2 separate regions of the Homo sapiens genome follow, and region 1 is linked to region 2. Evidence: fine-mapped QTL for protein levels in blood plasma. Region 2 holds a variant in brackets. A gene starts in the other region. All regions are shown on their reverse strands.

Region 1 (8,526 bases), not on the chromosome of region 2:
CCACCCCAGCCACACACACAGCTTATGCTCACCAGAGTAAAAGCTCCAAGTTCTTGACTCACTCCTTACATCTTTCTCCAGTTCTTAGGCTCCTGGTCAGGAGGAAGTTCTGCCAGAAGTCTAACCTCCCTCCTTCCTTCTGAAATACCTCCTTTCTCCCTCTTAGCCCACAAAGGGTATCAAGTTCCTTTCTTCCAGAAACATTCTCTCCAAAACCCATTCCCCAAATTAGTGGAGGGGGAAGAAGAAAGAGGAAGTCGGAGGAAAGTGGAGAGGAAACTTTTGGTGCTGAACTGGACACTGGGTCTGGCCAGGAAGGGGGAAAAATAGCCAAAACAGAGGGGAGGGAGCCAGGGGGTGAGTGGGAAAGCCCAGAGAGACTCTTGCTCCCAAGAAGCTTTTGGGATACCAAGAGGCCTGGATGGGGGTAAATGGAGACAGGCAGAGAAAAATAAGACAAGTGACAGAGACGCAGAAAGCAGGGCAGAGAATGTCACAAAGGTTCGGCAGTAAGAGATGAACTGAGAGGGTGAGAGACAGAGAGGTTCTAAAAAGCCAAGACAGCGCACACTAATGACAGACAGACAGAAAGACAGACAGACAGCCAGAAAAGCCAGGAAGGGGGCTCAGTCCAGAGATTGCCAAGGGGATGACACAGTTGTCCTGGGATGAACCCAGAGAATGACTACCCCGCTGAGCCTAGAGTAGGGTGGGAGCAAGATCTGTCCTATCTTGGAGAGACAGAGTCTCGGCCCTAGGCAGTGCCTGACTCAAGGGAGACCCAGAATAGGGACCACTACCACCCCTGGAGTCAGGAGGGTAGAAAGGAGGGAGGAAAATGGAGCTCTTCAGCCAGGGAAGCTAAGGCCTGGTGGGAGAGGGAGAGGCTTTCATCTCCCCTAGGGGAGCAAGAGGGACAACTCTCCACATATACCCCTCACCTCTTTCCCAGGGAGGGTTTATATTGGTGCCTGAGGCCATTGCACCGGAAACACTCCAAAGCCAACTGCTTCCTTCTCCAAACAATGCAGGATCCTGCTAACCAGGCTGAAATCTGGGACAGAAGAGGGAGGCAGGTTCTCTATCGCTCATACCCAGCACTACCAAGTCAGGGGCCTTCCTGCAGTACCATTCAGCTGCACCCAGATGCCCCAAGAGCAATGAGCCCACACGCAGAGCTGGAGGACCTGAAAGGTAAAGAGTCTGAGGAGTGAGGAGGACCCTGAGAAGAGAGTACTGGGCGGGAATAAACCTAGGCTTGGGGGTTCTGATGTGCAAGGGCTCACACTGCAGCAGGAGGAAAGAGAGATAGACTTGAGTAAGGAAGGGCTTCCCAAAAGGTAAGGAAGGGGTTTTGAAGAATGGGGGCATCTGGACAGGAACTGACTCTGGCCAGGACCTGGGCTGTCATCCTTTGGGAGGCTCAGTGGTGGAAGGGTGGTTGAGAAAATGAAGAGAGGAGAGAGAACAAGATCAGAAGAAAAAGATGTCTAGTGAAGCAGCCCTAAACATCAAAATATCCCTCCAACCCCAAAATGAATTTCTTACACATTCTTGCTTTAAAAGACAACGAGGCAAAGGGAGACGTTTAGGATGTGAGTCTGATCAGGGAGAAAGGAGTTTAGAACTTTCTCTCAGGGATCCAGGAAGCTAACACCCCAGCTTCATAACTCACTTCCACTGTACCTACTCTAGTAACTGGTAATATGCCGGCTCAAGGGGGTGTGTGGAGGAAGGTCAGGAAAAAGGGAGGGAGGAAGTCAGCCTTATTCTGTGAGCTGTATTTGTCTGGGGGTGCCCTCCCCACTAGAAAATGTTCCCCAATCTCAGCAGGGCCCTCAATAGTCCCATTCTCCACCCCATCTTTCTGCAACCTCTCCAGCAGCAGGTACACTCAATTTTGTCGCTAGTGGGGAGTGACGTTACTCCCCAAAGGGCAGGGGACCCCAGAGGCAGTTTCAGGCATAGAAGAGAAAGCAGAAGAGGTGGGAAAGCCCCTAGGATTGCTGCCCTGGAGAGAAAGCAGCAAGGCTGTGATAGCAGGAGGAAGGTAACATACTAAGTCAGGTGAGCTGGGTCATCTCCATTCTCTGGAAAGTAAACAAGAAAGTTCAATGTTGATGGACCCTGAGGCAAGAGGGCAGGGGTTAGGGATAAGGGATCCCCTAGGCTGCCTCTGGATAGAGTTGAACTTACATTTCTATGCAATTCCCCTTTCTCACCACCCTGTACCCAAGAGTGGGGTGGAGCTGATTATTTATATTCCCACTCCCAAGGCAGAAATATTGGTGTGTGTTTGGGGAGGGGTCCTCTCCTGGGGCTTTGGATAGTTTGATCTGAGCTGGAGATACAGAGGGGGCGTGGGTGAACATTTTAAGAAAGGGTAGGGAGATAGTTAAGGAGAACATGTCCAGTCTCTCTCTTCCACTAACTTGGTGTGGCAAATAGAACTCCTTTAGAGCCCTGGGAGTGATGCTATCTGGGGTCCCTTCCTGACCTTCCCTGCTCTCCACAGAAACCCTCTTGCTTCTGCCTAACTCTAGCCACCCTCCTTCAAGGGGCTCCTGATGGGTCTCTCTCTCTCTCAAATTTTTTTTCTATTCCTCCCAGAAGCGGCTGCAACCCCAATCTCCCTGCCTCGATTTCCCTTCTCACCTCACAGGGCTGAGAACAAGAGAAAAACACATGATAATGACAGGAGTTATAGGCAGAAGCCGGCTGTGCGGCATCTGGAGGATATTCAGGAAAAGCCCCTCTCCTCCTCCGGGGCAGCTAATTGGTGGGGTGGGGGTGGGGGGTAGAGAGTCCCCAAGATGGCACAACTGAGGGACACTAAATATGTTTTTTGGGGACACAGCTGCTTCCTGACCCTGTAAGTCTCCTCCCCCAATTGAAGCAAGTTAGGGAGAGGGAGGGAGATAATCTGGTTTCAGAGAAAAACTTTCCCAATCCCAATCTGGCAAGACAGAGGAGGGGGTGTATGATGGTATCCAGCCCAGTTTTGTCTTTGGATGAGAGGGCTAAGATGACAGGAGGGGATGAGATCCCACCCCTTCTCAAATCAGGGACCTAGCCCAGCCCAACCCCATGACCCCAGCTTAATGCTTAAAGCTTGGGCAAGACTTGAACCAGTGACTCACAAGTAGGAGAAAAAAACAGCTGACAAAAAAAGGGAAGAGAGGCACCCCATTTCCCCAAAAGGATGCAGTTCTAGCCTAAGCCTAACTCTGCAATATACAAAGTGTGTGTGTATGGGGTTTTGGGCTTGGAGGGGTGCAGGGAATAAACAGATTTACTAAAGGAGTGTGGGGGCACAGCCATAATCCCCATCCAACCTCCAACTCTCCTTCCAATCCAAACTGTGATGAAGCCAGAAGTCAGGAAGAAGGCAGCCTCCCCCACCCTCCTACCCCAGCATTCCAGGCCATTCTCCAGTCCCCTTCCCCAGTGATGACATCTGACGTTTTTTCATCTCAAAGCTCCCAGGAATTAAGAAGGAAAATTCAAAGTCACATAGTATGGCGAGCTCCCCCTCTCTGCCCCCCAACACAGCCCTACCCCAGGCTACTGACAGAGGCCCTGAGAGGGGGAAGAGCCTACTTCAGCACCCAGGCCTCCAGCCGGGGCTCTGGGGTCGATTCCACGCCCAAGCAGGGGGCCCTCCCTCTCCCCACCCACAGCCTTCCCGGGCCTGCCTGCCCTCTGCCCGGCAGGGTACCCCTGGCCTGGCTCCCCTTTCGAGCTACAGAGGCCAGTGCAAAAGCCACCCCCCCCACCCCCACCCCCTTTTGCAGCCGAACATTGCAAATCCGGATTCCTTCACAATTCAGATGGGGGGTGGGGGGTTGTGAGGATGTAGGGGAGGCGGAGGCCCTCCCCGAACAGAGATAGGAAAAGAAGGCCTCTCCTCCCCAGGATCAGAAAAATGGGGAGCCCTCTTCTCTCTACCCAGGCCTCTGGTCTTTGTTTGTGCTGGGGGGCCCCGGAAGCATCATTTGCCCAGGGCCCCCATCCCCCAAATCGGACCCCATCCCCGCCCCCAGTCGGGCCGCTGCTGTGTCAGCTGGACTGGGATAACAAAAGGCACCCCCTCCCGCGTCTCCCTTCCCCATCCGTATGCAGGAGTGGGGGCTGGGGAGAGGGTGCCCCCAGGGGTCCAAGGGGGACGCGGAATCTCACTCACCGTCGATAGCCGCCGCGACCAGAGCTGAGAGCAGGGGCAGCAGCAGGAGCAACGGCGGGGTCAGCATGGTGTGGGCTGATGCAAGCAGCAGCCCCTTCCCCTCTGGTCCTGCTACTTCTCTCCTTCACCCCCCCCAGTTGGGGGGTCCCCCTTTTCCTCCTTTCCCCCTCCTCCTTCTCTGTTCTTATTCTTTCCTTCGGCAAAGCGCACCAGGGGCGTGGGTGAAGAGGTAGAGTTCCGAGCCCCTTGGGGAGGGCCTGCTGACGGGGGTGCGCCCCCTGCCCCGAAATCCAAACCCTTCACCCCACCCCCCCGCTTCACTCCTCGCTGCTCTTTCCCCCTCCCCGGGCGAAGCTCACAGCCCCATCTCGGAGCCGCCTCCGGCTGCAAAAATGCACAATTGGGAGGAGGCGGGGAGGGGGGGTGGGGGGCGTGGACCGGGTAGGGGAGCCTTTGGAGGGGGCTTGATGGAGCTCTGGGGGCTCCCCTTGTTTCCGCCTCCTCAGTGCATGGGCCTGGAGCTCGCACCGCTGTTCCCCGGACTGAAGTGCCGAGGGGGGGGCTGATGGGGGAGAGGGAGGGGACGGGTTGAGGAGGGAGGGAGGGAAGGGGCGGGGAAAGAAAAAAGGTTGGTGGGTGGGGGGAGAAAGAGCTACGCGGCAATCCAGTGAGTGCGCATGCGCCGATTTGACGCGCTGCCCGGGGGAGGGCGACGCGGACCCGCGACAGGGTTCGGAGTTCTGGAAAGCGGTCCAAGAGTGAGGGTCCCGGGGACTCGCTGGCTAGTTTGGGGCCTGGGGCGCCCTCTCCCCTGGCTGGGCCCTCCTCCCTGGTGCTCCAGAGAGCAGAAGGGGTCGAGGGTGGGATTGGGCAGTGGGCGGAGAGCTGAGCGGCTCCCCTTTGAAACTCAGTGTCATACTCTAGGATTTCAGGCTCCCTCCGGGGGCGTCCGGGACTCAGTGGTCTGGGCCGAGGCTCGATTTTCTAGGGGAACCCTGAAGGTGCCTCCTCTGCCCGGGGTGGGGACAGGGACCGCCAGTCCGCGGGGAAGGTGCAGGGAAAGGCTGAGCTTTGATTTGGAGACTTTGGAAGACCGGACTGGGATTGGGGCCTGCGAAGGAGGGGGCGGGGTTGGGGAGGGACCGCGAGGACCCGCCCCCACCTCGCTCCCGGGCTCGGAGTAAACAGGGACACCCGAGGGGACACGCCGGAGCTTGTCCGCCCGCGTGGGGCTCGGGGATGGAGCCCACCTTAGTACCCGCCCGCCCTGCTCGCCCAGCCCTAGGCGCGGGAGGGGCAGGCCCTGGTTTGGAGGGAGGTGAGTCACCAGCGGGTGGGGTTGAGGAAAGGCCACCCCCTTTCGCCCAAGAAGTCGGGGCTCATTTATTTTTCTGTTTTTTTTTTTTTTTTTTTTTTTAATACCTTCTGACTGGCTTGCCATCAAGTTAGGGTTTTAGATTCCGAGCGCCAGGATTTGGAATAAGATGAGGGACTCTGGACCTTCGTTTCCAGGCCTCGGGTTCCAAGGAGGTGTCTGCTGAGCGCCGGACCTTTGTCCCCAGGCTCAGCCCACACGGGAATGATACTTTGCAGAAGGCAGGCGCCAGGCGGTTCCCAGGGGCCAGTGAACGTGCTTTTGGTCACTGCCCCCTTCTGGGCGGCGTTTTATGGCTGTTACCTTAGTGTCTGACTTTCTAGGTGTCTGCATGTCAGAGTTCAAGGAGCGGGGCAGACGACGTCGGCTGCCAAAAATTGACGCTGGAGAGGAGGGACTGTTCCCCCTTTTACGTTCTAGTTACGGAAAAGTCCCCACTCCAGTCTGTCCTTGGCAGAAACAGGAGCAGCACGAAGGACTTGCCTCCTAATGACAGTGAGCTCAACCTTTAGCTTCTTCCAGCCGGCTTTGCTCAGCGCGGTGGCCACCTGCCTTTAGTCTCCTGGGCTAGAAACCTCAGACTTTATGCCAACTCAAGGGGGCCTTTCCTTCCTATATCCAATCTTGCCAGCCTGTGCTCCAGGCTTGTCATTTTTTTCCTCTGAAGTATATCTCAGATTTCCTCCATTTCCACTGCCAGAGAGTTGCTCCAGGCAGGAACGGGGTCTTATTTCTCCTTTTATCCAGCTCCCATGGCCCAACACAATGTGAGACGCACTATGCGGACTCACCAAATGCCTACGAGGTTCCTCCCAGGGCCCCTCCCAGTATTGGGATCCAAGTGAAATCAGGTCGAAACAGACTTTAGACAGCTTGACAGCTTTGAGAGGAAAACGGTATCTGGAGCAACCACATGTAGCCTGAGGGCTTGAAGGGGCTTTCCTCCCTCCCCCTACCCATCTGTCAGGTGAATCTTCCAAAAACTGCTTTCCCGGTGTCTCTTCCTTGCTGGGGAACCTCTAGTGGGTGTCTATAGACCAGTCAAATGTGAACTCCTCTTCAGTCATGGCTTTCCAAAACCTGGCCTCAGTCAGCATGCACTTCTCACTTGCAACCTCCCATCCCCTGCTGTCTCCTGAATGTGAATGTGTATTTTTATTAACTTTATATTGTTAAAAAAAAAAGAAAGAAAGAAAAGATAATACCTAGTGGTTAAAAAAAGTACAGGAAGGTAAAAAGTAAAAGGAAACTTGATGCTCTCCACACCCCCATTTTTCAGCTGCACCCTCAGAGTAACTTCTACTAACAGTTCTTCAGGTCTCCCCTACCAGCAGAGGTTTCCCCCCCGCCCAAGACGGAGTCTTGCCCCGTTGCCCAGGTTGGAGTGCAGTGGCCTAATCTCGGCTCACTACAACCTCTGCCTCCCGGGTTCGGCGATTCTTCTGCCTTGACCTCCCAAGTAGCTGGGATTACAGGCACACGCCACTATACCCAGCTAATTTTTTTTGTATTTTTGGTAGAGATGGGGTTTCACGATGTTGGCTAGGCTGGTCTCGAACTTCTGACCACGTGATCTGGCCTCCTCAGCCTCCCAAAGTGCTGGGATTACAGGCGTGAGCCACCGTGCCCGGCCAGGAGAGTTTTTAAAACAGTAACATACAGGCCAGGCGTGGTGGCTCATGCCTGTAATCCCAACACTTTGGGAGACGAAGGTGGGAGGATCACTTTTCAGGAGTTCGAGACCACACTGGCCAACATGGCGGAACCCCATATCTACTAAAAATACAAAAATGAGCCACGTATCGTGACGCATACCTGTAATCCCAGCTACTGGGGAGGCTGAGGCACGAGAATCGCTTGAACCCAGGAGGTGGAGGTTGTGGTGAGCCGAGATCGTGCCACTGCACTCCAGCCTGAGCAACAGAGGGAGACCCTGTCTCAAATAAATAAATAAATAAAACAGTAACATACAAATATAAGTGAATATCCTTTAAAACTATAAAGAAACTCATATGATATATAGTGTTCTGTAACTTGCCTTTTTTTCAATTAACTTAGCTTGATCCCTTTCCATACCGTATGAACGCATTTAGCTCACCCTTTGATCTTGGCTACTTGGAATCTCCTTGCTTGGATGTTCCACAGTTTGTTGGGATTGTTGGGCACTTGGGTTATTTCCAGCAGGTGAACTGCTGAGGGTATGTCTGTAAGGTGAGAGAATGCATATTTATGTCTTTCTTTCTTTCTTTCTTTCTTTTTTTTTTTTGAGATGGAGTTGCACTCTTGTTGCCCAGGCTGGAGTGCAGTGGTGTGATCTCAGCTCACTGCAACCTCCACCTCCCAGGTTCAAGCGATTCTCCTGCCTCAGCCTCCCGAATAGTTGAGATTACAGGCACCCACCACCATGCCTGGCTCATTTTTGTGTTTTTAGTAGAGATGGGATTTCTCCATGTTGGCCAGGCTGGTCTTAAACTCCTGACCTCAGGTGATCCATGCACCTTGGCCTCCCAAAGTGCTGTGATTACAGGTGTGAGCCACCTCACCCTGCTGAGAATGCATATTTCTATCTGAGCCATTAATGATACAGTTCCCCTGCTCCTCTACCCTCCTCAGAAAAGCCCTCCTGTTATTCTCGCTCTGCCTATCTCTCCTGTTCCAAACTTGTATTCAGGAAAGCTTCAGTATCCAGAGTTTAGCACTTTATTTTGTGGGCTCTGTATCCACCACTAGACTATATACTCCTTGAGGGCAGGGACCATGTCTTTTTCTTCTTCGTTTCCACCCAGCGTGAGAGGCTCTTGATTGGTGAAAGGAATGTTAGGACTAGAGTTGCCTTTCCTGGAACAGGATGTGACTTCAAGCATCTTCTTCCCTCTATTTCTCTTATAGCATTCATTGTTTAATCCTCTCTGCCTCAGTGCCTTCTCTTCCTCCCCACATCTGTTCTTAAGAGGCATCTTCAAATCCT
Region 2 (8,000 bases):
CATGCTGCCAGTTACAGGAAAATCCAGATATGTGAATGCAGATGAATTAGTGCAAAGCCAATACCACTATCAGGTAAAACAAAATCCACAACTAAAAATGTCAAGACCATTTCCTTTTGAGGTGTGTACATAATGTGATTTCATATAAAGAAAATGTTTTTGAATGATATCAGTAATAACTTTGCTCCCCTACCCTACCAAGAAGGGTAAGGGGGAATGAAGTACTCTGAAGAGGTACCTGTATCATAAAGCATATTAGAGACAGATTGACAGATTGGCCTAAGCAAAGCAAACAGTTTCTGCTACCATACCTATCGGCTATCTACCAAATGTTATATAGCCCCCTTTATCTTATTATTTCCTTATCAGGATATAAATAACCAATTTTTCAAAGTGCTGTAAGAAAATCTGTACAGACTGTGGAAACTAAACTCATTACAAAGGTGTATTAATTTCTGATACTGCTCTAGAAAGACAATAACAAAATATTTGGGTATTTAAAAGTAAACATTTAGCTGGAGTGTGCACAAGAAGCATAAACAATTTCTAAATTCATAAAAGATAAAAGGTTTATAAGATTAACATTTTCATTAGACTGAACTTACATAATCCATGTTAATGTGTTACTCGTGTATTTACCCCATCTTTTCCCTCCCCCATGTAAATTTCTCTCCCACTCTGCTTCCTAGGTAAGTTATTTTGGTAGATGTATATGCCAATCTGGTGGTCAGTCCCTTGAATATAAAGGTAACTGTGTGTTTATATTCACCACATGTCAGCAGTGTTGGGTATGCAGTATGCATACTCATAGAATTACATTGAATTAGATACGATACTGCACAGGAAAAAAGGGAAACTGGGGATGAAAAATCTCTATATTCTGTAGTCCAGAAAAATGTTACATTCTGTATGAAAAATCACCTTGAAGTGGAAAAGGCAAAAGATTTACTCTAAGGAAATAAATAACAAAGTATAATTATATACTTACAAGACTTGTGGGTCACTCCATTTTGATACACAGAGCTCTTCTAGCAACTCTTCCTCATCCAAGATCTCCAAAATTGACTCTTTGAAAATTTTAATATCTGTTTCTAACTCTGATAGACTATAAGAAATAGATACACAAAAATGATCAATAGAATAAACTTATAAGAACATTTCATAATAGTGTTTTTAGAGTATCTTATCAAATATATTATCTTATACATTCATGCTAAACAATGACTTATTTAAAAAAAAAAAAAAAGTTGAGTATTTACCAGGCAAATTAAGAATCAATTTGGCCAGGCATGGTGTCACGCCTGTAATCCTAGCACTTTAGGAGGCCAAGGCAGGAGGATTGCTTGAGCTCAGGAGTTTGAGACCCTCCTGGACAACAGTGAGATCTTGTCTCTACAAAAAAATTTAGAAAATTAGCTGGGCATGGTGGCATGTGCCTGCAGTCCCAGCTACTTGGGTGGTGGAGGTGGGAGGATTGCTGAAGGTTAAGGCTGCAGTGAGCTGAGACTGCACCACTGCACTCCAGCCTGGGCAACGGAGTGAAACCCCGTCTCAAAAACACCCACAAAAAACCCAAACCAAGGCTGCAGTGAGCTGAGACTGCACCACTGCACTCCAGCCTGGGCAACGGAGTGAAACCCTGTCTCAAAAACACCCACAAAAAACCCAAACCAGATCTAAATTAATTGGTAAAATTATCAGTGATATAAATTTCATCATACATTACTTATCTCAGAAACATAAATCGCTTGTGAATTTAAGATTTTTGGTTTGGGAATTTTATTAATCAACATGGCAGTGATAATATAGAACAGACTAGTTACTCTTAACTGATAAAAACACTCCAACATTTTTGGATAAGAAACTACTGATTCAGGAATTTTAAATGTTAATTCTTGAAGGGATTTCGGGAGTATAACTCCTGAGAGCATGTTTATTCTATTTATGATACATATATAATATTGTTATTAAATTCTGGAATGCATTATGATTTTAAAGAAAAAGAACAACATGGACTTTGAATTTGGATTTAGATCTGCCATTTACTAGCCATATAAATTTAGGCAAGTTACTCAAACCTCAATTTTCTCATCTTCAAAATGAAGACAATATCAACTATTGAATGGGTGATGAGATGAGATCACATACGGAAAAGAGCCTTACATGACATTTCATGCAAAGTATCTTTTCAACAAACAGTAGATTGTGTGCCCCTTTTAGCTCAACTTCCCACCTAGGCTACTTTCATACTTTAAAAAAAGTTATGAAACAAAATGTTAATAATTGATTTTAAGATATTTGTCTCCAACTCCCAATGTGATACATCATCCATATTTACCTTTTGCCATTCTGTAGTAAAATGTGCAGTTTGCTTCTGTCTACAGAAGAATGTTTGGGGTCCACCAAAGCATCCAAGGTCTCAAGGATCAGTGGCTGCAAAATGCTAAGTTTCCCCTGAAGGGTGTTGATCTAGATAACAACATGACCTTTCATAAGAATTAAAACAATCTTTTTAGAATATTCAGGATCAGTGAATCCTCTGATTAAATACAGAAATCTGTAGTAGCTTGAAATGCTGGTAACATTTCAGAACATAGATAATTCTAGAATGCCTATTCCAGATGATTCAAAAACTAGATCCTCTGGGTTCAAAGAACTATGTATGATGTTATCTTTAGGCACAGATTTGGTTGACAAGGAGCTAACTCTCGTAAGAGTCTTTCTCCTCCCGCCCGGCCAGCCGCCCCGTCCGGGAGGTGAGGGGCACCTCTGCCCGGCCGCCCCGTCTGGGAAGTGATGAGCCCCTCTGCCCAGCCGCCACCCCGTCTGGGAGGTGTACCCAACAGCTCATTGAGAACGGGCCACGATGATGATGGCGGTTTTGTCGAATAGAAAAGGGGGAAATGTGGAGAAAAGAAAGAGAGATCAGATTGTTACTGTGTCTGTGTAGAAAGAAGTAGACATAGGAGACTCCATTTTGTTCTGTACTAAGAAAAATTCTTCTGCCTTGGGATGCTGTTAATCTATAACCTTACCCCCAACCCTGTGCTCTCTGAAACATGTGCTGTGTCCACTCAGGGTTAAATGGATTAAGGGCGGTGCAAGATGTGCTTTGTTAAACAGATGCTTGAAGGCAGCATGCTCGTTAAGAGTCATCACCACTCCCTAATCTCAAGTACCCAGGGACACAAACACTGCGGAAGGCGGCAGGGTCCTCTTCCTAGGAAAACCAGAGACCCTTGTTCACATGTTTATCTGCTGACCTTCCCTCCACTATTGTCCTATGACCCTGCCAAATCCCCCTCTCCGAGAAACACCCAAGAATGATCAATAAATACTAAAAAAATTTAAAAAAAAAAGTCTTTCTCCTATAGACATTCATTATGAAGTAATGAGGGATCAAGTAAAATAAAATCTGCTATTATTAAAACACAAGCTTTCAGTAATACCTGTGTTCTCTGTAAACAGAATATGGTTCAAAATTCCTACAAAGCTCTTTGAAAATAAAAACTTGAGCTTTAAAACATAAACATATCAGAGTAAAGTCAAAAATAGACTATTTAGGTTAACACAAGTATGGTTTGATATTTGATATTCGGCAGGTATGCACTAATCCTGCTATATAGTTGTTAAAATACTGAAACACTTCCATGCCAGTTGGCAAATAGCATATACTAACTAAATCAAGCGGTAAAACTGATGACGTAAATTACAGCATATAGTCTTTATCTCAGAAGCACAATTACTGTGAAACAGATTTTTTTATTTGGAAACAAGTCCAGAGTCACAGTGCCTCTGCAGACATGTTGTTTATTTCGTCTCCAGAGGAACTGCTTCCGGGTTAAGAAGTCCTTGGGTGGGAGGGAAGACTGGACAGCCAAATAGGCAGACCACATCTTTTAATCTAAGAGATATCAAACCCTCTGCTCAGCAAGGTGTGGACTTTTGTAGTGGTTGGGGAGGCTGCTGAGGGTCACAGATAGGGTATTTGTGAGGCATATCTACTCATGGTATGTCTTGGTCCCTTAGGTGGGTTTGGGGAGCTTTCCCTTGTTCGAAAACTTATCCCTTTTGAGAGGTGGCTGGTCTTGCTTCTATGTAGTGTTGTTTCGTAAGGAAATCTTCCTGGGACCCCATTTAAAGGAAGAAGAATGTGTATCCCAGCAGACATCCTGAACTCCCTCTCTATTCTCCCCACAGCCAATCTCTAGGCCGGAGACCCATGCCAGCCTAGCCTCTCTCCTTCCCCTCCTGCTCCCTTTAAGATCCCTGTCTTTCTCCTAACAGCATGAGCTCCTGAGAGCTTACCCAGCCTGTGGAGCCCATGACTTACCACTGTTTACATCTTCTTTCTCTCTTCTGCTTTCCCCCTGCTTGGTAACTGGGCTCCCACTACTTATCATCTCACTGGCTGGTGCTAGCTGGTGCTCATTAATTACCCCAAGCAGGAAGTGTAGCCATCTATTCTTTCAGAGCAAGGCAGACAAAAGAAAAGTGTGCCAGGTTCACCCAACCCAATGCACCTCATGTCCTCTCTACCCTCTCTCCTCCTCCCACTCTGGTTAGTATGCTCCCAGCACCAACTCTTGCATGTAGCCAGTTCCTGAACAGTACCATCCTGACTTAACAGGAGGAAGAAAAGATAATGAAAGATTTGTGGGGTCAGGGAAGCAGAGAACCACCCTTGTTTAGAGCCTGACAGGAGTCTCAGACATCTAAGGACTCTTAATTTAAAGGAGGAGTCACTGGAAGAACTGTGCGTGATTCCTATGTCAATCTAGGTCTCAAAAAGATGCATCATTTACCTGGCTCAAACAAAGGATTGTACAAACAAATCAAAAAATGACTTGATGAAATGATTTAATAAAATAATTATCACATGTCAAGCATTTTTATAATATACATAGAGTCTTTAGTTCTATTTGACTGGGTCATAACATTTAAGAATTAAGTGATATCTCCATGTAGGATCCTTAGAGACGACTTGTTTCGGGGCAGGATGTGGTCAGGGGACATGCCATTGAAACAATACCCCAACTTGTCTTCCCACTCAATGACATTTCAAAATCAGAATAAACCCAAGAAGCTAAATAAAAACAGACTTACCCAATATTGCAGGAGTGCTTCTATAGCTCTAAACTCAAAAGGTAAAGGGTATGTAACGAGTTGACCCTCTCCAGACAACTGTGAAGGGAGTTCCCGGAACAGCCATTGCTCTAAGTTTAAATTACGATAATCTAATATCAGAAGACACTCTGGAGTTATCACAGCTTTCAAATACTGTTAAAAAAAAAAAAACCAAAACATATAAATATGTGAGTGTATATACACACATGCATGTATATACATATATATGTATACATACATATATATATGCAAATTGTAGAGCTGTAGGAAAAAAGAACATTCATAAAATTTGGTTTAATACTTTACTAATTGTGGATTAAGACTAAACCAAATCAGTGTTCA[T/C]TTTTGTTTTTCAAAAAAATCAAGGTTTTTTTTTTCAAAAGAAAAGAAACTTAAAAAATATATGTCTTGATACTGCTAACTCACTCTCAATAAAACTGGAATTATTCACATAAATTATATATTTACTAAGACTTCTGGGGTAATCATGAAAAAAAAACAAAAACAAAAAAAAAAACACCAAAAAATACCCCCAGAAAGCCGGGCATGGTGGCTCATGCCTGTAATCCCAGCACTTTTGGAGGCTGAGGAAGGTGGATCATGAGGTCAAGAGATCGAGACCATCCTGGCCAACATGGTGAAACCCCGTCTCTACTAAAAATACAAAAATCAGTTAGGCGTGGTGGCCCACACCTGTAGTCCCAGCTACTTCAGAGGCTGAGGCAGGAGAATCGCTTGAACCTGGGAGGCGGAGTTTGCAGTGAGCTGAGATTGTGCCACTGCACTCCAGCCTGGCGACAGAGCGAGACTCCGTCTTTCTTTTTTGGAAAAAATAAATAAATAAATAAAGGGAACAAGATAAGGTCTTCCTAAAAGTCAGGTATTGAGCAGACTTTTAGAAAAGATTTAGTTTAATCATAATTAGTTTGGCACAAATGGAAGTTTCCTTTTTAAAACACCACTAAAGCATATAAACAAAATCTGAAATTAAGATGAAACATAGCCTTACTACTCTAATTTAGAACAATATGAAATTAGAATTTTTTCTAAAAAGACTGGTTATCTTGTATGTTAAAAGTAGATAAAGGTAGCCACTTTATCAGTGATATAGAAATTAGAGATAATTTTCTATTTTTACATTTTTCCAACATTCTATCATGAATTTTTTTTTCTTTTTTTTTTTTGAGATGGAAGTCTTGCTCTGTCACCCAGGCTGGAGTGCAGTGGGGCAATCTCGGCTCACTGCAACCTCCACCTTCAGGGTTCAAGCTATTCTCCTACCTCAGCCTCCTGAGTAGCTGGAATTACAGGCACCCGCCACCATGCCTGGCTAATTTTTGTATTTTTTAGTAGAGACGGGGTTTCACCATGTTGGTCAGGCTGGTCTCGAACTCCTGACCTCAGGTGATCCACCCCTCTCGGCCTCCCAAAGTGCTGGGATTACAGATGTGAGCCACCACAACCTAGCCTCATGAAAATTTTTATACAGAAAAGTTGAAAGATTGCAGTGAACACCATATACCCACCAGTTAGATTACACAATTATCATTCTGCTGAATTTGCTTTTTCACATACCTGTCTGTCTCTCCATGAAAGAGACACTGTTTTGAAGAATGCTAGCTACTGATTCCAAGAGTAGAGAATATTTCTGAAGAAAATCACATGGGAGAAGACTGCTTCATTTTTGATAAAGTATTTTTTATTTACTTATTTATTTTTAGAGATGGGATCTTGCTATGTTGCTTAGGCTGGTCACAAACTCCTGGTCTCTGGTGACCCTCCCACTTCAGCCTCCTGAGTAGCTGGGACTAAAGGCACATGCTACCAATACTGGCCCATTTTTTATTATTTTGATTAGTTCTAGAAAAATGAACAAAAATCTGCCATCAAAGACTCTTTGAAGAAAGTCTCATACCCACTACAGGGCCAATACCATTCATCTATTTTTGAACCTAAACATTAGCCCACCAAAATAACTGAAACCCACATTAACTCTGAATCACTAAAGAAAGTCAAATTATTATTTGGCATGCTCTGAATAGGTAAGGGAAAATACAATATATTTCAGAAAGTTTTCCATTAAAAAAATTTAAACTGGCCAGGCACGGTGGCTCATGCCTGTAATCCCAGCACTTTGGGAGGCAGAGGCAGGTGGATCACCTGAGGTCGGGAGTTTCAGAGCAGCCTGACCAACATGGAGAAACCCCATGTCTACTAAAAATACAAAATTAGCTGGGTTTGGTGGCTTATGCCTGTAATCCCAGCTACTCAGAAGGCTGAGGCAGGAGAATTGCTTGAACCTGGGAGGTGGAGGTTGCAGTGAGCCAAGATCGTGCCAGCCTGGGCAACAAGAGCAAAACTCCATCTCAAAAAAAAAATTAAGGCTATAAAATTTAATGTCTATTCCTGTGCTATTTAGAAAGCCAGAATACATTTTTGGTAGCTCAGGTTATACTATAATTACATGTAACTGTACACAATTGGATATATATCTATTATAAATCAGGATTGTCTTATAGTTTCCAGAACTAGAGAGTAAATCCCAACAGTGAGAATGAACACCACAGTCAGAGCTTTTCCAACTTAAAACACAGCAGTGTTATGCCTATTGAACATGTGCATATAATCCATATAAAATGAGTTCTACTCATAATAGCATATTAAGCTATAAAACATCCTATGTTTCAGGTAGCTATTTCTATTCCAAAATTACTTTTAACCTAGATACTAATCAAGATAGTTAGAAGGTAACTTTTATAAGATTGTATTGGAGAAACATAGATGAAAATAAAATATTTTACCTCCATTCTCATGATAATCCTATTGTTTCTGACTGTGATACTCATTACATGCTGAAATCTCAAATCTCTGGC

Which allele goes with the higher level. Positions count from the first base shown, and alleles are read on the strand shown. Strength reflects both the effect of a copy and how common the allele is.
For the plasma level of the protein whose gene starts at base 4,732 in region 1, C is the high allele of the variant in region 2 and T is the other (weak association).

What was found. A credible set is the group of variants that fine-mapping cannot tell apart. PIP is the posterior inclusion probability: the model's chance that the variant is causal. The UK Biobank Pharma Proteomics Project read protein levels with antibody pairs (Olink). The fine-mapping took linkage between variants from a reference panel, not from the people measured, so its PIPs are less certain.
Region 1: LRP1 starts here. The variant in region 2 is the best candidate, but not a certain one, in a credible set for the plasma level of the LRP1 protein (UK Biobank, PIP 0.63).

What each region holds. Positions count from the first base shown.
Region 1 is chr12:57,124,689-57,133,214 of GRCh38, reverse strand. LRP1 (LDL receptor related protein 1) reads right to left here and starts at 4,732. Exons shown (of 89, transcript NM_002332.3): 1 at 4,184-4,732. The coding sequence starts at 4,250. RefSeq lists enhancers at 1,821-1,990, 5,072-5,725.
Region 2 is chr6:24,409,502-24,417,501 of GRCh38, reverse strand. MRS2 (magnesium transporter MRS2) reads right to left here. Exons shown (of 11, transcript NM_020662.4): 4 at 7,929-8,000; 5 at 5,107-5,280; 6 at 2,339-2,469; 7 at 989-1,105. Among named protein-coding and RNA genes, the nearest start is that of MRS2, 11 kb to the right of the region's middle. The variant T/C (reference allele first, on the strand shown) is at 5,470.